Linked DNA regions of Homo sapiens: all the other regions are reported to be linked to region 2. Evidence: microRNA targets listed by miRTarBase, many of them from high-throughput screens and not tested one by one. Region 2 holds a microRNA gene; each other region holds the end of a gene's coding sequence.

Region 1 (5,105 bases), not on the chromosome of region 2:
TCATTTGGAGTTCCCATAGAAGCACAGCACTTCATCTGAAACTTAATCACAGTATCTGGGTTTAGCCTGAGGGCTAGGATATTTTATCTCATTCAATTGTATTGATACTATATTTTTATCTTTATGAATTTTATAGTGAAACATTCTTCAATTAGAATATGCCCTCTGAATTAACATTATTATTACCATGATATAACAGTCCTGTAGGGCATAAGTTTAAGGTCATGCCATTGTTAGGCAAAAAACACAGCAGACCCTCTGCTGGTTTAACTGTTCCCTAAAGTTTTCCTCCATTGAGAGTCTAATTTCTTGATTATAACTTTTGGGGATACAGAGATAGCTTTGATTCTATGTGGGAGATTTCTGTACTAGCAGATGCTGGTATGAAGAATAGATAAAAGAAAATCTCTTTATATGCTACATGCCTTCCTTTCTCCCAACCTAGACTTCGATAGCTTGAGTGGAAAAATATTTTCAGCTGCTCTTCATAACAGCCTCTGTGAAAGCAAAAAGATTATCTACAAAAAATTATACAAATACAAGATTAATTTCCTAAATTTTATGCCCTAAGTCACATGTTTATGGTGCCTAAAAAACAATTAACTTGATAACTAAACATTTATGTATTATCTCTTGAAAAGGTCTATTTTCACACTATTTCAAAAATTATTTATTTTATATGCAATACCTAAGACATAATACTTGAGAAGGAAAATATATCCTGTCATGAAGATTAAAAAGTTATAATATTTAGGTAATTTATCACAAAGGAATTTACTAAATTTTGCTATATCAGTTGTGGAATTTTCATAGTGTATACATGATCACTTAATAACAAAATTTTACTTGCTGTAACCTTTTAACATGAATTTATTTTAGTGCCCTTTTAATCTTCATGCAATAACTTTTAGGCAGTTTGAAGAGAACACATGAAGAAGAGGATGATTTTGGAACCATGCAAGTGGCGACTGCACAGAATGGCTGACTTGAAGAGCAACATCATAGAGTGTGAATTTCTATTTGGGAAGGAGAAAATACAAGAGAAAATTATAATGTAAAATGGTAAAAACATAAGTAGTTTTTTTTTCAATTACATGTTGCTTCCAGACATACTTCTCTGCAACTTGTTGAGCAACATTTTAAGATGTTGGACTTCTGCAATAGATGACACTGATGGTTTTACTCCTTTTTTTAAAAACACATGCGCGCGCACACACACATGCTTTACAAGTTTTATTATAAACCAAGAATTTTGGACTTGCAAAGAGGTATTATTGCAATAATGCACTTTTCATACTTGAAATTTATTTGTATGATATAAAGTTATTACTTTAAACAAAATGCAAGTATGGGGGGATTGTTTATAAAGTTTGGGTAATTTATAACAAAATTTGCTAAGGTTTGCTAAAAATTCATTTTTCTGTTCTATATATTACATTTTTAACATAATTTTACAGTTCAATTTTATGATGGAGCCTCTTACAGAAACATTAACAAAATGCAGGAATCTGCCACATTTCTTTTTTAGTATAACTTAATAGCTTAATTACCATTTTATTTTTTATACTTCTTCCATTATTAATCTTTAAATCATGATCCTAATTAGCTGTCCTTACTTTAACTTGATCTAATTATTGCTTCCTTTCTTATTACTTTCCTAATTTTTCTATATTTTAAAAACTACAGTTTCCATGATAAAAGGAAAACGTTTTGATTTATAGTACCAAGTGCTTAAACACAAGGATAGTGTTAGATTTTCGAGTGACTTTCCTTTTTGCATTTTTTGGCAGTAAAAGCCAAACGTTGTATTTGTTCTTTTCAGAGTTGTCCAGCCCTTTTTTCCTTTGTCCAAAATGATTCTAAATAGAATCTAATAAACCAATGTAGCATTATTTTTTTCTAAATGAAGCCCCAAAAAAGAAAAGTGCCTTGCATCATTTAAAAAAAATAATTAAATCCTCATGGCCTCTAAATTAGTATGTAGAACACTGAAAAGTTCTTAACATTTTTGTGTAATTTCCTTTCTTTTTAAACCATAAATTAGTTTAAACTGAAAGTACGAGGCTGGAAGAAATATTAGTAAATTATTTGGAATATAGAATGTTTACTCTTTCTTTTTATGTTGTCTTAATGATTCTGTGAGATTGTTCCGGCTCAAACAGAAGCTTTTCTTTGGGGAAGGTGATTTGTGGGAGACTAGTGTATTTTAAATTAGCATTTTAATCCATTCTTGACATTCAGTTAGTCCAGATCTGCCCCATAATTTGCTTTAGTAAAGTCACTTTATGGATTTTTGGCTATGTTTTAGTTTGTGTGTATAAAAGTTCTAAGAAAACATTTTTGCTATTTTAAGTATGTAAGGGAAGAGAGGAGTGTTTTTAACTTTTTATAGTTGATGACTTTAGGGTAGCACAAACAAAACTCCTTTGTATCTAACTTTTCTCAATCCTCTCTTGAGGTGCTTTACTAATGGGAATGATTTCTGTATGTTCCCTTGGTACCAAGAGGTACTATGCAAAGTAACCTATTACACCAAGTTACTTGCTTTGCTTTCCTCTCTATGATGTGATAATACAGTAAAAGCTTTCTTACCCAGCATAGTGGGAGAGTGGAGATTAATTAAAATTGTTAATTAAGAGTTAATTCCTATTGACCCAGGTGATATTTCTCTTCTGATTTCCCTCCCCTTCCCTTCTCTTATCTTACCACTGTGAAAACAGCATATTGTTAATCTCGTTGTCGTCCAGTATTCTGCTTTGTGATTAGGTCTTTTGATGTACAGTGGTCTAGTGGAGTCAAGATTCGCATTGGGTTTTCTAAAATTCCAGTTGATAAAAGTTCCAGATAACACAGCTTTCCTGTATATAGATCACTATTGGGCAGGTCAGCAAAGATCTCTTACAGTGTAATAATAATCTATGATGCTTCATTTAGCAGAAACTCTGCTTAAAAGAATCTTCATAATAGTAAGTTTAGGTTTTAAAAACTTGTTTCATAAATATACATATATCCTCTCTAGTAGTCTGGCCAAAAGAACAGATTTTGTTATTGATAATTTGTAGCTGGTAATTTTCCACATTTTCTATCCACTGTAATTTTTATGTTGTCACTGAAGTGCCTGCCCAGTACTGTATATTACAGTCTCTCACAAACACTGGGAAAAGGGACTGTCATCATCTTGAGTACTCTGTGTGTATATATATATATATAGATAGATAGATTTTTTTTTTTTTTTGAGACAGAGTCTCTAATGTCACCCAGGCTGGAGTACAGTGGCACAATCTTGGCTCACTGCAACCTCCACCTCCTGGGTTCAAGTGATTTTCCTGCCTCAGCCTCCCAAGTAGCTGGGGTTAGAGGCACATGCCACCATGCCTGGCTAATTTTTGTAGTTTTAGTAGAGATGGGGTTTCACCATGTTGGCCAGGCTGGTCTCAAACTCCTGACCTCAAGTGATCCACCCACCTCGGCCTCCCAAAGTGCTGGGATTACAGGCGTGAGCCACTGCGCCTGGCTGAGTACAATATTAATGTAGACAAACCATGAAGTTTATTATTTCATATAAGAACATTACAGGTTTGTTTTTTCTTGCATGTCTGTCCACCTAATGTTTAAGTAGTTCTGGTAGCTCTTCCTATTCTTTATTCTATTTGATTCCATTTCTGTGATTCTTTTATTACCACTGATGTTTTGTGATAGTTAACTATGATAAATTTAACTGATCATGATTTATCTTCTAGAGTATTTAAATAATGTATGAGTGACCACCCAATTCCAACATTAAAAGTGTAATCTGGGCCCATAATTTATAGTGAAATTGTATCAAAACATAGGGAAACTGTATTACTGTCCATTTTGAAAATATGAAACTTGAGTATTGAAAATATTCAAACATGGAATGGCAGTATTCTAATTTCAGTTAGTTGGTTCATGTTAATTTCTTACCTGTTAGATGTTTAAACTGCAGTGACCTTTACTTGTATCTACTCTGTGGTGGAAATGTTAAACCATGATAGCTTTTGCTACCAACTCAACCACTTAACTTTTAGAGCAGTTTTGGGGAGAGTTTATGCTTCATCTGAGTTTAGAAGTAATGTCAGAAAATGTTAAGCATGTCTGTATTAAGAAAATATAAGGTTTCTAATTGTCTTATTAATATGGTAATTCAAGTGAATTAGAAATATTTAACTGCAATCTTGAATTATAAAGTTGAGATATATATATATATGTATCAAGATCTCAACTTGATGTAAAGTAAATGAGCAGTTACCTGGCGGATTTTTTTTTTTTTAAATAACTGATTTAATCCATAATCCCATAACAAACATAGCTTCACCTCAGTATTTTCTTTCTTTCTTTGTTCAACAGTGCTCCGATAAGGGAATGCTAGAAAATAGATGAGAAGTACTGAAAGACCTTTTTTTTTAATTGATTAGAAAAGTAAGTCTCTAGGGTCTTTGAATGCTGGAATTTTTTTTTTTTTTTTTGTCTTTCCCATCTGTGGCAGCTAAAACAAAAATCACTCAAAATATTCAGGTTTACATGTTAGCTCTCTCTCATAGGGAGCTGCCATACCTCACAGTTCAAAGTGTATTCTATAGATCAGTAACATTATACTGACATGTAATTGCAATTTACTATGCAGCAAAAATGATTCAAGAAGAAAAATAACCTACAGTGTCTGTATACCTTTGTATACACAATTGCTTAAGTTACTCTGCTTTTAACATTTGTACTTGGATAAAATGCTTATGTCTGTATAGGAATGTCACAGTGCAAGATGCTGCTAGCCCAGGCACAAAGTATTAAAATTATTTTGTGAAGATTGGTGGTTGTATTAAAACTGCTGTGCCATTATACCTCCAAAATATTGAAAAGCTCATTCATACTGCTGCTTATACCTCAAAACTTCTTTACTTAGATTGTTATCTGCTGGGTAAAAGTAACCCAAATTTACTCTGAGTTAAGAAGAGTGGATGAACATTGAATGTTGAGAAGCACTTAAGAGTATACTCTAAAACACTGTGGTTACACACACACACAAAATTATGGTCTGTAGTCCAGGCAAGCCTCAAATTCCAGCTCAAGTTTATTTTTAAGGATTA
Region 2 (5,105 bases):
TAAAGCTGCTCCATATTACTAATCACTACAGAAATCAAAACCACAATGAGATAACCACTTCGCCTCCATCAGGATGGGTTTTTTCTTTTTTTGAGTTGGAGTCTCGCTCTGTCGCCCAGGCTGGAGTGCAGTGGTGCAATCTCGACTCTCTGCAACCTCCGCCTCCTGGGTTAAAGCAATTCTCCTGTGTCAGCCTCCCGAATAGCTGGTATTACAGGCACGCACCACCACGCCAGCTAGTTTTTGTAGTTTTGGTAGAGATGGGGTTTCACCCCACACCAGTTGGCCGGACTGGTCTCCAACTCCTGACCTCAAGTGATCTACCCAACCCAGCCTCCCAAAGTGCTGGGATTACAGGTGTGAGCCACCGCGCCTGGCCAGGATGGCTACTATAAATACAAACAAAACAGAAAATAGTAAATGTTGGGGAGAATTCGGAGAAATTAGAACCCTCATTCATTGCTGGTAGAAATATCAAATGGTGCAGCCATTGTGGAAAACGGTATGGTGGTTCCTCAAAACAAACAAACAAACAAACAAACAAAAAACACATAGAATTACCATATGATACAGCAATTCCATTTCCAGGTATATACCCAAAAAGAACCGAAAGCAGGGACTTGAATAATATTTGGACACTAATTTTCAGAGCAACATTCTTCACAATAGCCAAAAGGTGGTAACAACCCATGAACAGATGAATGGGTAAACAAAATGTGGCGTATACCTACAACAGAATAGAGTTCAACCTGAAAAAAGAATGAAATTCTAACGCTACAACATAAATGCTCCCTGATGACATTATGCTAAGTAAATAAGCCAGTCATTAAACAACAACAACAACAAAGACTGTATGATTCCACTTATATGGGTTACCTAGAGTAGTCAAATTCATAGAGACGAAAAGTAGAATGGTGGCTCCCAGGAGCTGAAGGGAGGAGGAAAGGGTAGCTACTGTTTAATGGGTACAGTTTCTCTTTGGGGAGAAGACAGAATTCTGGAGATGGACGTGATGATGGTTACACAGCAGTGTGAATGTACTGAATGCCACTAAACTGTACACTTTAAAATGGTTAACATAAAATGGTAAATTTTATGTTATATATATATAACCACAATTTTTAAAAATAAATCCTTTTTAAAAAACATGTATGATTATTCTGGTAGCAGCATCAGAGTCACTTTCTTCCTTCTAGTTTGCTGACTTCAGTTTGAAGAATTTGCCTTCTTTGGTTTGCTGACTAATGACCTGAAAGGGGCCTGGTCACTGGAGGGAGTAGGGAGAGCTGACTTGAGACTGAACAGGGGCTTGGGAAGAGCCGTCAAAGGGATGATCCCCCCGCAGATAAACAGAGTGTGGAGAAAGCGCCAGAATTACTGTCATCTTTTATGGCTCACTCGGATAGCTTGGAGCCGATTATGTCACCCAGTGGGGAAAGATCAGCTTTTCTGCTGGCCCAGTGCTGGGAGCTCTTGGGAGGTGGGAAAGTAAATTGCAGTGGGCCGAGGCTGATGGGTGGGCAGGGGTGTCGCAGTGTGGAGGGAAGCGCTGAAGCTATCCCTACAGGGAACAGTCCTACCCCTTTAATGACTAGAAAAACAGTTTTTTAAGAAATAGGACATTTTCTAAATTATAACATCTAGATGGAAACCACAGTGGGGATGAGAAGACCAACAGGAGGCTGAGCAACGACAGCTCAGGTTTGCATGTTCACTTAAAGAGTCGCTGGAATCCAGGTTGCCCTGTTACTAATTAAAACAACAACAACACTTAACCATGAAAACCCATAATCGAGGAGTGACTGTTTACATTAAATTACTGGGGATTATAAGTTGATTCCCTTCAACTCTGACTTCTCAGATGGCCATGTTTACAGTCCCAGCAGGGAAGTTAACAAACTCGTGTTAAGGGTTACTGCTAACTGAAGGTTGACCATAAAAAATGCATGTGAAATGATCTTGTAAACTAGCATCACAGTTTACAGGAAGGTCCACTTTATGGATATTGCCATGCCAACAATTGATTCTGTGTTCCCCATGCAAACTCCAGGCTTCCCAAGGCTTACAGCTGGGGGCTGTGCAGGGAAGGCAAGTTCTTATTCATGCTAGTCTCGGTGAACTCTAATTTTTAAAAAATGGATTCGGGAACACACATCCTGTCCAGAGGAAGGAGGATAAAGCAAGGGTGTTAGAGGGGGGATAAAGGGGGTCTTTCCTACCCTTTCCCCCTGCATTCCATGCCCCCACAGCCTATTATCTATGCCCCTGGGATTGACCAGCTGCTACTAGATCTGTCTTTGCTGCTGATGCTGAGTAAGTGGGACTCTGGTCAGACTACACACCCCTGACGGTAAGAATCATGTCTCTCCATCAGTCTGGGACTCTAATAACAACAAAAATAATATAGCAACAAAAATAATAGCTATCATTTAGTGAGCATTTACAATGAGCCAGGAATTATTCTAAGTACTTTACATATATTAACCCATTGAATCCTCATCAGAACCCTGAGATAAGTTCTACTGTTATCTGCATTTGACAGATAGACAAATGAAAGAAAGCCTGGGGAGGTGAACCAGTTTGCTCAAGCTCATACAGCTAGTTAAGAGCCGGAAGTCCTGCCACCTTCCTCAGACTGCGACGTCTCCAAGCAGGGCTCCTGTACCTTGCAACACTTGGGGTATTTTCTGCCATGGCCATCAGGTGGGTTGGTGGGGTGAAGGGCTCTCAGAGGGATCTCGTTTCCATCAGTTTGGGAGCTGTGCTGGGCAGGGGCCCCGTCACCTCCATCAATCTGGGAGCTGTGCTGGGCAGGGGTCCTATCACTTCCCCTGTCTGGAAGCTCCCTAGGGTCTAGGGCTATGGTTCTTCTAACACATGGGGGACTTTCTAAAGACTCAGCCCCGCAGGGCTTGTGCCACCCTCTGCACCCTCCTGGGATTCTCAGAGGAGGGCAGTGACCTGACACTTCCTCAGGCAGTCCCTGGCAGCTTCCTAGGGCAGAGGCTGTGTGGAGCAGCTCCTCACACACCTTGGCTCTCCTTCCTGCCCAGCACAGGCCTCTGACCACAGAAGGAGCTCAGGATCTGTGCACTGCATGGCTTTTCTCTGGTCCCAGCTCCAGGCTGGTGGATCTGAGCGTGAGCGCGAGGTTGGGCTGGCCCCTGGGATTTAACAGGCAGTAAACAACTCCATTCATGCGTCAGTTGTTTTGCTCCAGAGCAGCCTCATCAGCTGGACAAGCCCTAACCAGATCCCTCCAAGTTCTCTGCAGGGGTGGAGATGGGGGTGGGGAACAGTGGATGGCCTGGAGCTTGGCTCTCGTCTTTTCCGAGGAGAGGCTACTTTCCACTCCCTTGAAGTCTGGGATTTTTATTGGGGAGAGGCAGGCCCTGGCAGTAAGATATTAAGTCCCTGAGAAGGAAGGGAAGGGATGCTGCTGCTACTTGTATGGCCCCTTGGCGGAGGAGGGCACCAGCAAACCAAGAAGGGAGAGTGAAAGTGGCAGTAGGCTAAGAGGTGCTCCAGAGAAGCTTCCAGAACCACTGCCTCTCTCCTGTCTCTGGGCTTGGAAGAGTTGGCCAGGATCCCCCTAAGCGCCCAGCACTTCATTCTTCCTATCCTCTCTTCTATCCTCCCAGACCAGGAGAGGACAGCAAGAATGAAGTGCTGGGGGCTTGGGGTCCTGGCCAACTCTTCCAAGGTTGGAAGGCATAGGCACAACTCTGTCAATTAAGGCAGAAAAATATAAGAAGATGAGGGTCCCTGCAGGGCAAAAGGCAGGAAAGAAGGATTTGACACGCTGGGTAGGGATTAGGAAGTTGCATGATTGGTAGAAGGTTTGCACAGGAAGAAACCCAAGGAGCAGACACTGAGGACCACAGGGGTCGGATAGGGAACTGAGGGGTTACGAACCCCTGGCAAAGGAAGTGGAGCTACTGCTGCTACTCACTGTTTGACTAGCGATTTCACCCACAAGCTCTCATTTTCTCTTCTTAGGTAGACAGATACGATGTTAATAACCTTTTTGGTTTTTTTTTTTTTTGCAAATGGGAAAGCAGATTTAGTTGTCCAGGGTCTACACAGAGTTCGCATAAGAGCTGGGAATAAAATGCTTTTCCAAGGCTCTTTGAGCCAGTTTATTGAGGGCAAAGAGCCAGGGAGGAGGGTGACAGAATGACAGCCACAGAGACCAATGAGAGGGAGGCGCCTTCATTGACCAATCAGCTCCTTGGATGTAGGCCCTGCCTACACCACACCCAAGTCTAGAATAAACCACATCGAATTTCAGAGGCAATCACAAAGTGTACACAGCACACTTTTGTGTACTTTCATAGCAGCACAGCAAACCAAAACCCGTTTTGGGTTCCACTCCACTTTTAAGGCGTCGCATCCCAGTGGTCTTTCCACCATCCTCCCCCGCCATCCAAGAAGCCCCTGCGCTTACCCGGTAGTGATGTCATCATCCTCCGTCATGGTCTTGCCCATGAGGTCACTGTCGCTCATGTAGCCGGACTTGAGGTCCACCTCATCCGAGTCCAGGGATTCGACCAGCTCCAGGCGGGAGATATGGCTGAGCTTGCTGGGGCTGCGCATGGGCATGGTGTGGGAGTAGTGGGCCCGTTCGCCGTGCATGTACCAGGCGGGCGTCCCCTCCGAGCGGCAGCTCCCACCCACAGAGGGCGCGTCACCAGCCTGCAGCCGCGGACTGGACTGGCCATAGCGCCATGACAGAGGGGACGAGCGGTTGGAGAGGCTGGACACGCTGCGTGGGTTGGCATCATCGCTGTCGTAGCAGGTCATCTCCAGGGAGCTGGGTGGAGAGCAGAAGGCACTACTTAGTCCTTGGCACAGCCGCCGTGTGCCCTGTCCCCTCACATGCACCCCAGCAATGCCTCCCCTCCACCCACAGGCCCTGTCACCTCCTCCCCACCTGCCCAAGCTCCACCTCCTCCATGAGGCCTCTGGTTGTGTGTTACCTTTGTGATACGTTATCTGTTTGACAAAGGAAATGATCTTAATTAAGTGGCTAGGGAAGAAATCCTGTATACTGTTAAGACCCTAGATTGTGTAATATGACCTAGGTTTGAATTCTTTTTTGGTAT
Region 3 (5,105 bases), not on the chromosome of region 2:
GAGGCCTTGACTTACTGCGCTCCAGTGATCCTCCCGCCTCAGCCTCCCGAGTTGCTGGGGCTAAAGGTGTGCACCACCATGCCTAGCTAATTCTTACGTTTTGTAGAGATGAGGACTCGCTACATTGCCCAGGCTGGTCTCAAACTCCTGAGGTTAAGTGATCCTCCAGCCTCAGCCTCCCAAAGTGCTGGGATTACAGGCATGAGCCACCACACCTGGCCAGTGATGCATTTTTAAAAAGCCATCCAATAGAAGGAGAAGGAAATACATATCTTAATTACTTTCTTGAAAGGGGCGGCCACACTGGCGGAAGAGGAATATTGAAGGCAAACAGTACCTCAGCAACATGGGGACTCGAGGCTCCTACCTGCTGCCCGGCATGGCGTCCTTCGTCACTTCCAACAAACCGGACCTCCAGGTCACCATCAAAGAGGAGAGCAATCCGGTGCCTTACAACAGCTCCTGGCCCCCTTTTCAAGACCTCCCCCTTTCTTCCTCCATGACCCCAGCATCCAGCAGCAGTCGGCCAGACCGGGAGACCCGGGCCAGCGTCATCAAGAAAACATCGGATATCACCCAGGCCCGCGTCAAGAGCTGTTAAGCCTCTGACTCTCCGCGGTGGTTGTTGGGGCTTCTTGGCTTTGTTTTGTTGTTTGTTTGTATTTTATTTTTTTCTCTCTGACACCTATTTTAGACAAATCTAAGGGAAAAAGCCTTGACAATAGAACATTGATTGCTGTGTCCAACTCCAGTACTGGAGCTTCTCTTTAACTCAGGACTCCAGCCCATTGGTAGACGTGTGTTTCTAGAGCCTGCTGGATCTCCCAGGGCTACTCACTCAAGTTCAAGGACCAACAAGGGCAGTGGAGGTGCTGCATTGCCTGCGGTCAAGGCCAGCAAGGTGGAGTGGATGCCTCAGAACGGACGAGATAATGTGAACTAGCTGGAATTTTTTATTCTTGTGAATATGTACATAGGCAGCACTAGCGACATTGCAGTCTGCTTCTGCACCTTATCTTAAAGCACTTACAGATAGGCCTTCTTGTGATCTTGCTCTATCTCACAGCACACTCAGCACCCCCTTCTCTGCCCATTCCCCAGCCTCTCTTCCTATCCCATCCCATCCCATCCCATCCCATCCCATCCCATCCCGCTCTTTTCCTACTTTTCCTTCCCTCAAAGCTTCCATTCCACATCCGGAGGAGAAGAAGGAAATGAATTTCTCTACAGATGTCCCATTTTCAGACTGCTTTAAAAAAAATCCTTCTAATCTGCTATGCTTGAATGCCACGCGGTACAAAGGAAAAAGTATCATGGAAATATTATGCAAATTCCCAGATTTGAAGACAAAAATACTCTAATTCTAACCAGAGCAAGCTTTTTTATTTTTTATACAGGGGAATATTTTATTCAAGGTAAAATTCTAAATAAAATATAATTGTTTTTTATCTTTTCTACAGCAAATTTATAATTTTAAGATTCCTTTTCTTGTTTATCAGCAGTTGTTATTACATCCTTGTGGCACATTTTTTTTTTTAATTTTGTAAAGGTGAAAAAAGCTTTTATGAGCTCATGTAGCAATCAGATTTTCCTGTGGATTGATAATAAATGAATATGATATATAGTTAAATTTTTAAGGGGCATCACTCCTGGCTTTGTCTGTGTCTGCTTTAAAAGAGCATAATCACGGAATAGGACTGACAAAGGATTGTTTCTTTTTGGGGACCAAAATGTTTTCCCTTGTTGACCACAAGAAACCGTGGAGGTTCTTACTGTGAGGCTTCAGTTGACTTCTTCTCTTGAGTGCTCGCCTGAGCAGGGGCCCGTGCTGAGCGTTTTGCATGACTTCCCGTCTTCATTCATCACACTTGTGCTGTAGAATAGGCATTCATCTCCATTTCATGTGGAGGAAATGAAGACTGAATGTGAAGATGCCTTTACTTGGCTCATAGTGGCACTAAGAGGCAAGGGCACAAGTTGGGCACAAGTTGAGCCCAATTCTCTGTGCTATGAAGGGGGTCTTTTTTCTTGTAAGCATATCCGTTATCTCAAATGTCTGTCTTCCTCTGTGTTGGGAGCATTCCCTGTGGAGGGGGAGTATTTTAGCCACGCCACTGGTTTCCTTCTCTGCTGTGAGCAAGGTTCACCCCACTCTGTGTCTTTCCTGTTTTCATCCTTAGGCTTACACGTACGACAAACGTCTTGTGTTTATGTCACTTAGAGGGGTGCATGGATAAGACATTTTCCACAACAGGAAATATGTATTGGGCTCTAACACCATGTCCGTCACTCGTCTTTCTAGGACCCGAGGCCTTACACATAGACCGTGCCCTCAAAACTTGGGGTCTGTCTTGTGGAATAAAAGGGGTGACTTCAAGAACACCAGTCTTTATCAGCCACTTGGTGTTTGAAGGTATAGTCTTGGCCTGGAGAAAGCCACAGCACCAGCCTCCCCTGCATCCCCAGTATCTTACTCTGTAAAATCAGAATATGAAAACTTTGCTACCCGCCTACTACCTCTGGGGGGTTGTGGAGGAGATTGCTAAGTTAATATTTGAAGAGGTTCCTTTAATGAAAGGACAAAAGGCTATTTTTATGCCTATCTCCATGTGTGGCTGCAGATATAATTAGCGGTCATAAAGTTATCCAGCCCTGAATGGAAATCAACTGGAGCATTTTCCTGGCGGATGCGTTGTAGTTGAAATGCCACACACAGAGGCGGGGCTGCTTCTGGAAGGAGCACTTTCGTTGACTGTCTCAGTTTCTCAGTGGAAGGGGAGTTATCAGGAAGAAACAGATGCTCCCTGGCTCCTTGGCACCCGACTTTTCAGTTAAGACCTGCTCTTCCCCCAGGTCCTGAATGGAGAAGTTCAGTTCTTTGAGACTTACATCTAAAATGTTTTACTGAGTCATCCTATTTTAAATAAATTAACAAAACAGCAACGGAAGGTTGCCCTGAGTCACGTGGCCTGGTTATCAAAGGGTTTAAGGTAGCTCAGGTCTCCTCCCCCTTCCTTCTTCCCAACACAGACTCAGGGCTTCTTCCTGCATCTCGGTCCCGAATGCCATTCCTGCTGCCCTCCCCTTGCTTCTGTAGCGTAACTAGACTTCCCAAGGCCCATCAAGTGGAAGAAAATTCAGGACTTGGAAATGCACCATTTAAGTTCCAGAGATGATACTCCATTGCCAATAAGGCCATGAAAAACAGAATCATGTTTAAAATCCTTCTGAGAAAGCCTGTATTGTTTCTAAGTGATACTTGCCAGCAACGCAGGAAAACAAGCTAGTCTCAGGATGCCTGGGGTTGACATGGGGAAGGAAAACAAAGGCATTGGGGCAGCTCCTGGACCCAAGCCTCAGACCTTGTCGTCACTTAGAGGAAGTGCCAGGGACGCATGCTTCTGGTTGGTATTTGTGTGAGCTGATAGGCTTTGATGATGGGCTTGGGTGTGTGTGTGCACGTATGCGTTTAATAGCAAGTTCAAGTTCAGTGTAACTGCCTTTGGAACAATAGTTTCCATTCTCTGCAGCCAGTACCTGGGTCACTCCCTTGATAATGGGCTCACTGTACAGCTGTGAACTGTGAATTCAGGGACATGTATTTCTGCCCAGCCTTGAGGTTGCAAGCACCCAGCACATCCACACACCTCGATGAAAGGGGCTTCTGGAATGCCATTTGCACATCTAAATAAATCCACCCTCAACCGTACTGTTTTGTCCGTGTTTTGATGAACCACTGCCAAAGGTGGTATTTAGTCTATTTCAAAGGATTTGTAAAAAAGAAATACACATGGCTATGGAATACAAATTCTTTGGACATCAAAACCCTAAAACAATACCCTTTCCCCACCCAAATCCCAAGTGTACCGTACTATCATGTAACCACTACTGAGACAGAGATTTTAGAAGTGAAGGAGATGAGTGATTTGATTTCAGGAGTCTGAGTTTTCAAACTTGTGCTTTTGGAAGTGCTTTGCATGTGAATGGAAAGATGGTAAGCCCCAGCTGGCCTCCTGCCCCTAATTCAGAGAGATGGAACATGAGACGTTCCTTCTGCTTGAGGCCACTCTGTAACCTGCGTTCATTAGGCTTTAAAGGCCCCCTGCTATTGTAGTTTTGGACAAATAAGCCCAGATAAAAGGTTAAAAAAAAAAGAACCCCCACTATTCTGCCAGATTTCTCCTGATAAAAGACAAAAGCTAGGGAAAGGTTTACACACAGGTAGCCAAGATGAGTTCATTGGCATTCAGGGGTCAAACAGCTAATGTCTGAGTGCCAGTTTGGTTTGGAGGCACAAACTGGTTTTTACATGGTGCCGTTCAGCCGCCTACCTCACCCTGAAACTCCATCCCACAGTACAATGACGTGCCTGGGGCCAGAGTTATCAGAGCAGGTGGGACGTGACTCTGACCTCCCTCTGTCCCCAGGCTGCAGTGGACCCCTCCCAAGGGCAGTTGGGTGACACCATCAGCTTCTTGAGGCTGCTTCTCACTCATTTGCACCCCAGCATGTGAATCAAGGTTGGGTACTACTAGGCTGTCATCCCTGGGATCTCCTCCTCCCCAGAGCCCCACCATCCCGGTGTCAAAAGAACAGGGCTGGGACTGTTGGCTTCACCCCCTTAGGAATGTGTCCAACCACAGGCCTGGAGAGGAGAGCCCGGCCGTGCGAAGCTTCAGGTCAGGAGATGCAGGAAGCTGGCAGGAGTCAGGGGGAGATGCTTTTTCGTGAGGCTGTCTGGCCTCTGGGTCCCCACTGGCCCCATGGGACACTGGTACCACCCCCATTCCCTGTCTGGGCTTGGGCATCACTGGTCCTGCTGTGCAGACAAATGAGGGTTTTGTAGAGGTTTGCTTCTGTGGCCACACGAACAACAGGTGCAGAGGCACTGTGTCTCTGCTTCCGAAAATAGTGCCTGGAAGGAAGGAAGTGGTCAGGCCTAATAGCTGGTTTTAGCAAAAATGTTAAGTCTATCCAAGAACCCGGGTTGTGCCGTGGAAGGATCAAGATGTAGCACATTTCAGAGTTCACATAGTCTGAAAACAGCCTGCTCTGGAGTCTGACCAAGTTTCTTCAGAAGAAAAGCAGTGTGTGTGCTTCTGTTC
Region 4 (5,105 bases), not on the chromosome of region 2:
CACCCGGCTGATCCTTCCTTCTAACTCTTCATTCCTGGGGCACTCCCATTGTAAATGGCCTGAAGAGGGACAAAAATGTCATTCTGGACACACATTTATCCTTAGCAAGAAGAGAAACTTGACATTAGGGTAACACTATACATGACATCAGTGGATAGATCCCTTCATATCATTCTGTTAGTTATTTGAAAATGACTTTCTTTGTTGCCTTTTAATCTTTTTAGAAAATGACTTTCTATTTATGTACTGATTACTGCTGAATCTTGATTTTCTACTGCTCTTAGGGCACAGGGGAGAATCTAATTAAACCATAAATGAGTACAAGTGTAAATTCTAGGCCCTAAAGAACAATTTGTTCCCAGAAATACATTTCACCTCTAGAAGCTTCCCTAACAATTTGGGTGGAAAAACACTTGTGAGGGCAGGAATTCAAAAGGGCCTCATGGGGCTGATTTTACACATAAGGTTATAGAGTTATTTTTTAATACAAAATTTGGTCCAATATGTTGAATCCAAAGAGAAACGTTAATTCTGGAATATCTCTTATGTAAAATCATTTATCACTTAGCTTTTTCCTTGTCCTTGCAGAAACAAAATAAACATAACTGAAGAAAATCTCCTAGGCCGGGCACAGTGGCTCACGCCTGTAATCCCAGCACTTTGGGAGGCCGAGGCAGGTGGATCACAAGGTCAGGAGATCGAGACCATCGTCTCTACTAAAAATACAAAAAATTAGCTAGGCGCAGTGGCGGGCGCCTGTGGTCCCAGCTGCTAGGGAGGCTGAGGCAGGAGAATGGCGTGAACCTGGGAGGTGGAGCTTGCAGTCAGCGGAGATTGTGTGCCACTGCACTCTAGCCTGGGGGACAGAGCAAGACTCCACCTCAAAATAAAATAAAATAAAATAAAATCTCCTGCAGAGTGAGGCTCACTTACCTGACTTTTCACATGACCCCCACTTTTCCTTCCATAGCTAAGGACCTATGTGGCAGGAGTAGGGATGGAGGCCAAAGGTGTACAGGACCAAACCTCCTCACTGACCAGCTTCATTAATTTGTAACTGTTTGGAAAGGCCAATCAATTAAAATCCTATCCCTTCCCTGACTGGGGTAAATTGATTTTGGTATTGGTAAATCTATTAAAATAGAATTCCCATTGAACACTTACCCTTTTCTTCTGGGAAAAGTAGCCATTCCTATTTGCAAAATCAAGACAATCACAGTTGCACATTTTCCCAAATCTTTGGCTGTATTGCAATGGTTGTTTCAATTTGTAATCTCCAACTAAACATTTCCTAACCATGGATTAACAATATAGTTACTGACTGGTTTCTTTTAACAGTATTTATCCAACATAACAAAATAAACTGCAATTTGTTATAGTTTTTTTTTTTTTACAAAACATTTTATAAATATTTTTACAAAATGTATACAAAGCAATTTCAAGTGAGACGTACTATACAAATGAAGGTATTTAAGCAAATAAAGCCCACACCACACTGACAGCGAGTGACGCGTCCTCTTTAAGTAAAGTCAGTCTGTAAGGCCTCCCTAATCTAACAGAATCTACTAAATCCTTCAGAGCTAAAATATTTCTTTTTCATAATTGCCAGATTAAAATTTTGCTTCATCTTCAGGAAGTACTTAAGGACACAGAAAATCAAATGCTTAATAACAAATTCACGCTTTTCCACAACAGAAAAAAAAAAAAAAAAAGAAAATGATTTTTGTTACTGAGTACAAATAGTTCTAAAACTTAACTTTGACGAATGAACCTGAACAACTGAATGTTGGCCATCCGAGGCTGAGCTCTCCTACCCTTCACTAGAGGGGGCTCGACATGCGAGTTATGACCCATGTGCGTAGAACCTAATCACAGGAGTGAAATACATGTCATAATCTTCATTTGTCATTATCTAGAATCCTTCCTCCATAAAAAGTAAACTTACATACAATGACACAAAAATTTACAAGTTTCATTTTGGTAAATTAGGCTCTCCATTTGCTAGACAAGTGTTAGGGCTTAAAAACCCTTTAGGATGGTATATAGAAAAGCTAGGATTGGGACAGCAGGGCAGGATAGGGAAGAAAGAGAGGTGACAAATGTACATGAAGCTTATCTTGTCTCTTGAGAATTCCACTGATTTGCAGTAATTAATGTAACTCACTAGCAGCCCACATGAAGGCTTCCAGGGATAAAGTTCTGCAATGAGAAGAATTTGATTAGGAAGGATCATCTTGCTAGGAATTAGGGGAGCATGAGCCCCAAGGGAAGAAAAGCCTATGAAATCATGGAGTTTAGGGCAGGGTGTTACCCTAGGACTACCCAAACAGAAAGTACCAACTGGCGACACCAACTTATCTAATATGTTACAATACAGGAAAAAGGGGAAATCTGCAACTTGGACATTGGCACAAATAAGGAAAAAATGGTAACCCTAAAATGGGCCAGATTTTCCAATTTGTATTGGCTGGGGCATGTGGCTGGGGTGAAGGTACGTTGCTATTATGAAGACTGGCCATCTCACAGGGTTTTCTGTGTGTAGTGGGACACAGGGGCACCGGGGTATAGGTCTTCTGTTGCTGTGTTTTCTAATTAGAAGCCTTCCTTTCCATCACAGGCCAATCTGGAAAAGAAATGCCCAACATGATGACAATGGGGGTCATCCCCATGTTGGCGACAGCCAGAAGCAGATTCTGGCAACACATTAAAGTGAAGACCAGTGGCTGCACCTCCAGAGCCAGGGAGATAAACAGAATAAATGAGAGAGTATGCACACTAAGAAGGAGAGTGAGTGTGCACACACTGTAACAAAAATGACCTCTGGATCCGAGCAGCTCAGATACATGCACGTGTGTGTATGTGTGGGAGAAGAGTGCATAAAAATACTATCATGTAGCTTTCCCAATGAGAGGAGATAAGTGATGGTTACAATGACATTAAGAATAAAGGTAACAACAGAAATGGGATAACCTGGGGCAGGTATACGAGAAAGGAAAACGGAGAATACTCCCTGACAAGAAATAAAAATAAATAAAGCAGTAAGCCATGCTCACTAATATGAACACAGGCCAAACAGAAACCATGACAGGGCATATCCTTTGGCTCTCAAATGGGAATCCCATGTCTCAGATCTTTCCTTTCAGTGGTGGGCTAGCTGGTTACCTTTGGTTTGTCTGTGTTTTGGTAATGAATTGCTGCCAGGGGTCACTACTGTTCTCAGACAAGAAGCATAAACAAGGCCAGAGTCTCCTTAAAGTTTAAACTGAAAAATTACAACATAATAATTTTCAAATGAAAGTGCTTTTGATGCTTGGTATTTGTTGTGGGAGAGGGTGCAAAGAGAGGTTAAATGAAACAAAATCCAGCAACAAACAAAAACATACATTATATGTTGACTATATCCAATTATAAAATGCAAAACTTGTTTTTTCTCAATAGTTAACATATATATGCTTTTACATATATACATATTAATATTATAACCCTCATGGCTCTATCCCGGCCTCCTCTGTACACTGTGCCTCTTAACTGGTTTCCATTTTCCTTTATTTAGCCTGGTGAAATTATTTCAAATTTTGCTGCTGTAACTAAGAACAGAACATTCCCTAGGTGAAATTCAACATAGATATGCCTAAAAGCATGAGGTTTTGCTCCGGAAGCATCAGAAAAGCACTTGAACCATCAATAGGGAAGCCCTGCAATGCCCTGCGTATGTGCTACTGGCTTTTCCACCAGGGCTGCGGGTCCCTGGCAGCACAGCCAGCAATTTACTGCTCAAAGATGGCTGAGGGGGAAGAACCATGTGGTCTTCCCCTCAACAATAACAACAAAACACACACAAAAAAACTCAAAATAATAATAATAAAAAAACCCAAAACTAAATTTGCAGATGCAGTGGGATATTCTTTAAAAAGTAGCTTCTATCCGTCTCGTTTGATTTTAGTAAGTCTGTTCTTTTCAAATGACTTATGATTGTCAAAATTTTACCAAGGGCCAAGTATACTGTGGTCTCATTGAGTTACAGTGTTTTTAAAAAACAAAACAAATAAACAAAATGCCTATAAGCACTTTCATAACACTTGAAATGAGTGGGGCCTATCAGACTGCTTTCTGCCAAGGATTAATTTTACTAAAGGATCTCCCTGTAATCACGACAAGTATTGCTCTTAAACAAAGAACAGGATTGAGATTAGAAAGAATAACCTGTGATGAAAGATCAAGCAGGCTGGAGACAGGAGACCATTTCCATTTGCTTTTGCCAGGAACGAATGTAACTGGTCCGGGGTGGGGTCTCGGGGTGGGGTCTCGGGGCGGGGTAGGGGGAGGACTGCTGCTATTAACACTCTAGGATACTATTTACAGCTGCTTCTAAAATGGAGTCAGTTTCTACAACACCTTCACTGTGGTCCGGGATGAACTTTTCCAGGCAGTTTTCCTGTGAAGCCATAGGAGAAAAGTTGGGGAAATCTAACTCAACAGAGCCGCTAACCGTGGGGTCACTCTGGGGCTGCCGTCCCGCCTTTTTGAGTTCCAAGATGTTCTTAAATGTGGTTTCCAAGCTCTTTGTCAGCTGGAGATCTGGCTGGGGTTCGCCTGACCCTTTCATGATGTCTGTGTGTAAAACTTCATTCTTTGGAGAATTCCTCAGACTTTTGTCCTGGAAGGAATTGTTACACGTCATCTCCAAGTGCGAATCTGCTAGGATGCTTGACAGTTTGCTCTCAGTACCATGATCCGATCTGGATGAGGTTTTCCGGTGCCCCTCAGGGCCGGGAGAGCACTGACTGGCCTTCAGAGGCTCTCTCCGGCTGGCCTTCTCTTCAGACGTGCTCTGGTACTGCACTAAGCCCACTTTGTCAAATTTCAGTGCTCTGCCAAGGCATTCTGTTTTTTTAGAAATGTTTCCTTCTGCAGAGACCACGATGTGATTAGGCACTAGATGAAACTGGTCATGATTCATGGGTTCCGTCACACCGGTTTTGGCTCGGTCTCTGCCTTGGGCCTTGGCTGGCGGTTGCAGAGAGCTGCTTGCTTTACTGCCATGCTGGTCACTCCGGCCAAACTGTGTCTCATGAGCAGCTTTATCAAGTTTGAAGGAACAACAG
Region 5 (5,105 bases), not on the chromosome of region 2:
AAGGGCAAAGGGTAGTCACATCTGCAGCCACCACCCTGTTCTACTGTCTGTTGAACACTACATAGAACTTGTGAGATTCCTGCCCAAAGTAAGTTCAGTTATAGACCAAGTGTAAATTTGCAAACAGTTGTATTCTTTTGGATAATTTGTTTGAAATTGTATTTATTCTGTAAAAAAGGCTCAACAGCCATTTACTAGTCATTCCATAGTCAGTCAGTGCTGCAGTGGAGAGCCCTGGAGATTACAGGAGACCCAGCTCTCATACAGGTTCTGTCACTACCTAGCATTGCATCCTTGGGCACATCCTTTTTGTTTCCTTAGATGCAAACAGAAAGGGTTAGGTGAGGTGACCTCTCCCTGTCCCCATACACCAAAGAGCAGGCCTGCAGCAGAGGGAATACTGGGAGAGCTCCTTGTCCCCATACCTCCCACAGGAGTTTGACATCATGGGGGGCTGCTGTGCCCTGCACGGTCACTCCATGGACTGAGCTTTGCCTCTGACTGTCCTGTACCTGTGCCTCTCTCCCCACTGCAGGTGGAACACTACAACCACCACACAGCCACCTGGCACCCTGCAGCTGGCATGCTCAACAAGCGCTGCCGGCACGGAGCCGCCTCCCTGGGGAGCAAGATGTTTGTCTGCGGGGGCTACGATGGCTCTGGCTTCCTCAGCATTGCCGAGATGTACAGCTCTGTGGCAGACCAGTGGTGCCTGATTGTCCCCATGCACACGCGCAGGAGCCGGGTCTCCCTGGTGGCCAGCTGTGGGCGCCTCTACGCTGTTGGGGGCTACGACGGACAGTCAAACCTAAGCTCAGTGGAGATGTATGACCCAGAGACAGACTGCTGGACATTCATGGCCCCCATGGCGTGCCATGAGGGAGGGGTCGGTGTGGGCTGCATCCCTCTCCTCACCATCTAAGGCAGAGGATGGGATGTGGTGGGGCAGGGATCTGGTACAGACATAGGCGCTTCCTTCCAGGAACAGTCCCTCAGGAGAGGCAGTGGACCAGAAGAGATGGCGAAACGTGAGCTCGCCGGAGGTACAGTTTTTCCAGGTGCTTAAGCCCTCCCCCACTGTGCCACCCTTGTGACCTTCAGGCTTGGGTCATCAAGATGCACAGCATGGAACACAAGCTCCTCTGGATCCTGCAGCTGGTGACATGGAACTGTTTTCTGGTCCACATGAACACAGGCTCCATCCAGGCCCAGCTCCTACCCACCGCCTCTCTGTGGGCCAGCTGTTCACAGAAGGCCTTCCATCTGATGCTCCCCATCGCCTGCTTGCTCTCCAGCCGAGTCTGGCCAATTTGCCATGGGGAGGCTGCAGTGTCCAAGCCTGCTGGAAACTGGGATGTAGCTGGGGACGAAAGGACAGACCCAAGCGTTCTCCCTGCCTGAGATGGTGTGGCCACAGCAGTGGAAGGCTGCACACAGGCACATTCCTTCTTCCACAGTGGGGCACCAAGGATTCTGTCCTCATTGCTGGGTAAGCAGGGAGAAGAGAAGTTTTCCCCATGTCTAATTTTGGGATTTCAGTGAGGCCTTTTGATCTGTCCAGGAGAACAGAAGGGAAAAAAAGATACTTGAAAGAAACTGAAGGAAATTTAAACAAAGAAACACTTGAAAGAAACTGGAAAGAAAAATAATTTTTTTATGTGAACAAATTTTGCAAGAAGAAAAAAGCATAAAAGACACTAACGGCAAATCTATGTTTAAATGGAAAATCGTCTAACTGGAGAAGGGCGGTATCCACCCCACATTCGGATCCCAGGGTCCTGAGGCCTCGCATTGAGCTGGGGGTTCCCTCTGAGCCCCAGTGTGTGTGGAATCAGTGCACTCTTGACTGGGCCTGTAGTAAGGTGCTCATGGGGTTTGTCTTCTCACCCACCATCAGAGGACTTTTAAAATCATAGGCGTAGAGAGTTAGGCTATCTGCTGAATTACTGCCACTCTTCTTGGTGGGGGCTCCTAGCTGTGGCTGGGGGCTCCAGGCGCCCCTGTGATTACCTCCTACTGCCACCATGGCGCTCATTCAGATTCCCCACTCTCACTAACATTGCTTCCTTTTTTGACCAGCAGGAAACAGCAGGTCTGGCCAGATTCTCACTTGCCCATCAATCTCGTTCTTGGATGATTTCCCTCATTGTGATGCTTCTGGGGCACGTTGACCATATGCACCTCTAGAACCTAACCAGGGCTTCCTTCTACCAGCTGTGGGCGGGCTTGGTCTGGTAACCTTGTCTGCTCTGCCATTCCACTGCTCCTCCATCCACTCGCCAATCCCAAGAGTCTGGCCTCCCTCCAGCCCTGGGCAGACTGACCAGCAAGGTGGACCTTTACATTCAAGCACAGCTGGCTTTTATGACATAAAGAACTAAAGGCCGAAAGAATCTCTTGCTGCTGCAAAGAACAGATTTTATATTTCTTCCTCTAATCTTGGCAAATGACCTTTACCTTTTGGAAAGATTTCATATTGCTTCCTCCTCCCTGGATAGGACCTAATGTAGCACAGCGGGACTCAAAGAGGAGGACATTTTCTCTTGCCAGTGCACTGGGCAGTGGGGCTGTCCTTCAACTGCTGCTGCCAAAATTGGTTTTCTAAAATTCTTCCAGTAGAGACTAAAAGAAGATTCAATTCCTGTAACCCAAGACTGAGTCTTAGGGCTCCAGTCTCCACCTGCTTGGTTTCCTATCCTTTGCTGCCTGCCTGGGGTGGCCTGGAAGCCTGTTCAGAAAGGCACAATGTGGAGCCTGGGGTGTCTCCCCCACCCCAGGACCGTCAGGTTTACCAGTGTGTGCAATCGCCATGTATTCAGAGGGAAGTACCTTTGTTACCTACAACTTAGGAGCTAGGCCTCTGCTACAAGCACTTGAAAATGATATTTTTATTTTTAACGTCTCAACAATCTGATATCGGATGTCGTTTAACCTGGGCTCGTGGTAGGGCTCCAGCATTTCTCCCTCCTTCCTGGTTTGCCTGTAGGGGTAGACTCGGAAGGTGGGTGGGGTGTGCATTTCCTGTTAGGAGTGTATCAGTGCTTGTCTTATTATAAGCCCCTTTCTTTTGTGAATTTGAAGTAGCACCAACAAGCCTGGATTGTGAAGGTATTAAGAATCGGTCTGTGGGCTACTGAGTGGGTCCTTAGGATACTGGCCCAGATTTTGCCACTGGGTATGGCAGATCATTTTCTACCATGGCCTGCTGCTCTTGTAGTGGACTTCCTGAGTCCAATCCCACCTCCTGGTGTAGAATTTACACTGCTGCACCTGAGGTCGATGTTTCAAAGTAAGATCAAGCCAGTGTTTTGATCTGGGCTCTGAGCACAAGTCAGGAAACACCAACATATTCACACTCTCCCAGTAGGTTCCTCAGTCCGATGGTGAATGGCTATTCGTAAATGGCTGGTCTGGCTCTTTGGTGTTGGAGCCTTTCCAATAGCCCCATGAAAAGAAGCATCACCCAAGGATATTGTAAAAAGGATGTAACAAGGAGATAGGGTAGACATTGTACTCAGTGGGCCTTGGGGCCTAGCCCAGCTCTGAGCAGAGGACTGTGGCATTCACTGTCCTTGAGTGTTTCACCTTCTTGGATAACACACGGGCCTTCTCTTCTGGATTTCATCAGAGATTACAGCCAGATGGGGGCTGAAGACCATCCTCTTGACCACAGAGGTGTGACTGTGGGAATTCCTCCCAATTTATGGTTTCCCAGAAAATCTTAGTTCCTTTTATTTATAGAATGCATGTCTTTTGTGTTAAGAAACCAAAGAGAAATAAAGAGAACACTCCTAATAGCTCTTGTCCTTTCTTGGTTTATTTCTCAGATATTAGAAGTACATGTTTGTTTTTTAATTGTGATTCACTGAAAAAAATATATTGGACAAAATGGGAATATTTCTGTGAATATAAGGGAAAAGCCAGATGTACAGCAAAAGTAGTCTTTGGAGAGATTTATTTTATGAGAGTCACTTCTGGTGAAAAATATGCAAAGACTTCATTTGCACTTTGGGACTGCATATTGGTGCCTGTCCTGATCGCCCCTACTCTCGGATTTCCCCTTTTCTCCATTCACTGCCCTAAAACTCCAGAGTTTCCCAGTGGAATGTGGCTGCCTGTTGACTGCCTGGAATCAGCATCTCCAGCTCCTTTTTTATGCTCTAGGCGAGAGGTGCTTTAACTTTGGTGCACATAAAAGTCACTGGAAAATGTTTAAACCACAGATCCGTTCCTAAGTCCCTCTCTAGAGACAGGTTCCCTAGGGCTGGGGTGCAGCTCAGCATTCTGGCGTGAGCAAGTTTCCTTGGTGATTTGCATGCTCTTCAGTGTGAGAACTATACTCCCATCTTCAGTTTCACTTCCCCAAATACAGCCGCATTCCAGATCTGCTCTTCCAAGATTACACTGTGGTTAGTGTGGTTTTGCCTGTTGGGAAACTCTTCAGTCACACTTTTCCAAAAGTCAGCTTGTGATCAATCTTGTCCATTGGACTCCTGGATGGCAACTTAATTTTTTTAAGTTTTTGGAAGGCATATCACTCCCACACACACCCCACCAGGACATGTCTTACATATAAACACTCTTATCAGTTGAATCTCACATGGTCCTCAGTAATCCCCACGGAGCAGGTAACATTTTAGCATAAGGAAACTGCCTCAGAATGGCCAAGTAATTGACCTGACTCCAGCTAACCAGTGGCATTGTGAGAAATTGAGACCAGATCTCCACACTCACAGTCCAGTCTGCCTAAGGACAGCAGTGTCTTCCACCTGTGAAGGGAGCAGCATTCCTCCCAACAGTCATAGACCTTGGAAAAGCAGACTGGGCAGCAAGGGGAAGAGTGAAGAAGCAGGTGCCTTCATGCTGAAAGAGATAGCCAGACTATCTGGGAACTCTGCCCTCTGGGAGAAAGGCCTGTTGCTTGTAAAGTAGTAGCAGCCCTTTCCATGTAATCTATGCCCCCTTGACCAGAGCCAAAGAGCCCCATAGGTGAAGAGTGGACTGCTAAGTCAAACTGGATTCATCTGCTTGACTTTCCATTTCTTTTTTCTTTCTTTCTTTGTTTTTGTTATTTGGACTCCTTTCCCCCTCATGACCAACAGCAG

Evidence for each region. The annotated mature microRNA hsa-miR-5191 reads AGGAUAGGAAGAAUGAAGUGCU and lies in region 2 at 3,603-3,624, opposite strand. An mRNA with a match to its seed (bases 2 to 7 or 8) in the 3' UTR can be bound and repressed. Matches are read on the target gene's strand: a 7mer-m8 pairs with bases 2 to 8, a 7mer-A1 pairs with bases 2 to 7 and ends in A, and an 8mer does both.
Region 1: the mRNA of STYX is a reported target of hsa-miR-5191. Seed matches in the 3' UTR shown: 7mer-A1 at 3,083-3,089.
Region 3: miRTarBase lists IRF2 as a target of hsa-miR-5191. Seed matches in the 3' UTR shown: 7mer-m8 at 1,110-1,116.
Region 4: miRTarBase lists BICRAL as a target of hsa-miR-5191. Seed matches in the 3' UTR shown: 7mer-m8 at 2,074-2,080.
Region 5: miRTarBase lists KLHL18 as a target of hsa-miR-5191. Seed matches in the 3' UTR shown: 7mer-m8 at 2,692-2,698.

The regions. Positions count from the first base shown.
Region 1 is chr14:52,770,122-52,775,226 of GRCh38, forward strand. STYX (serine/threonine/tyrosine interacting protein) reads left to right here. Exons shown (of 11, transcript NM_145251.4): 11 at 912-4,868. The coding sequence ends at 985. It overlaps GNPNAT1 (glucosamine-phosphate N-acetyltransferase 1), which reads right to left. Exons shown (of 6, transcript NM_198066.4): 6 at 5,072-5,105. Among named protein-coding and RNA genes, the nearest start is that of GNPNAT1, 19 kb to the right of the region's middle.
Region 2 is chr1:201,718,098-201,723,202 of GRCh38, reverse strand. It overlaps MIR5191 (microRNA 5191), which reads right to left and starts at 3,695; the gene lies at 3,576-3,695. NAV1 (neuron navigator 1) reads right to left here. Exons shown (of 34, transcript NM_001389617.1): 7 at 4,448-4,813. All of the region lies in intron 2 of IPO9-AS1 (IPO9 antisense RNA 1), which reads left to right. LOC124904483 (a long non-coding RNA gene) reads left to right here. Exons shown (of 2, transcript XR_007066790.1): 2 at 1-1,148. RefSeq lists an enhancer at 2,933-3,579.
Region 3 is chr4:184,384,254-184,389,358 of GRCh38, reverse strand. It overlaps IRF2 (interferon regulatory factor 2), which reads left to right. Exons shown (of 9, transcript NM_002199.4): 9 at 293-1,630. The coding sequence ends at 601. Among named protein-coding and RNA genes, the nearest start is that of LINC02362, 4.5 kb to the right of the region's middle. RefSeq lists enhancers at 1-222, 2,228-2,986, 4,505-5,105, 5,082-5,105.
Region 4 is chr6:42,864,678-42,869,782 of GRCh38, reverse strand. BICRAL (BICRA like chromatin remodeling complex associated protein) reads right to left here. Exons shown (of 13, transcript NM_001393499.1): 13 at 1,227-5,105. The coding sequence ends at 4,337. Among named protein-coding and RNA genes, the nearest start is that of RPL7L1, 12 kb to the left of the region's middle.
Region 5 is chr3:47,343,020-47,348,124 of GRCh38, forward strand. KLHL18 (kelch like family member 18) reads left to right here. Exons shown (of 10, transcript NM_025010.5): 10 at 536-3,797. The coding sequence ends at 922. Among named protein-coding and RNA genes, the nearest start is that of PTPN23, 35 kb to the right of the region's middle.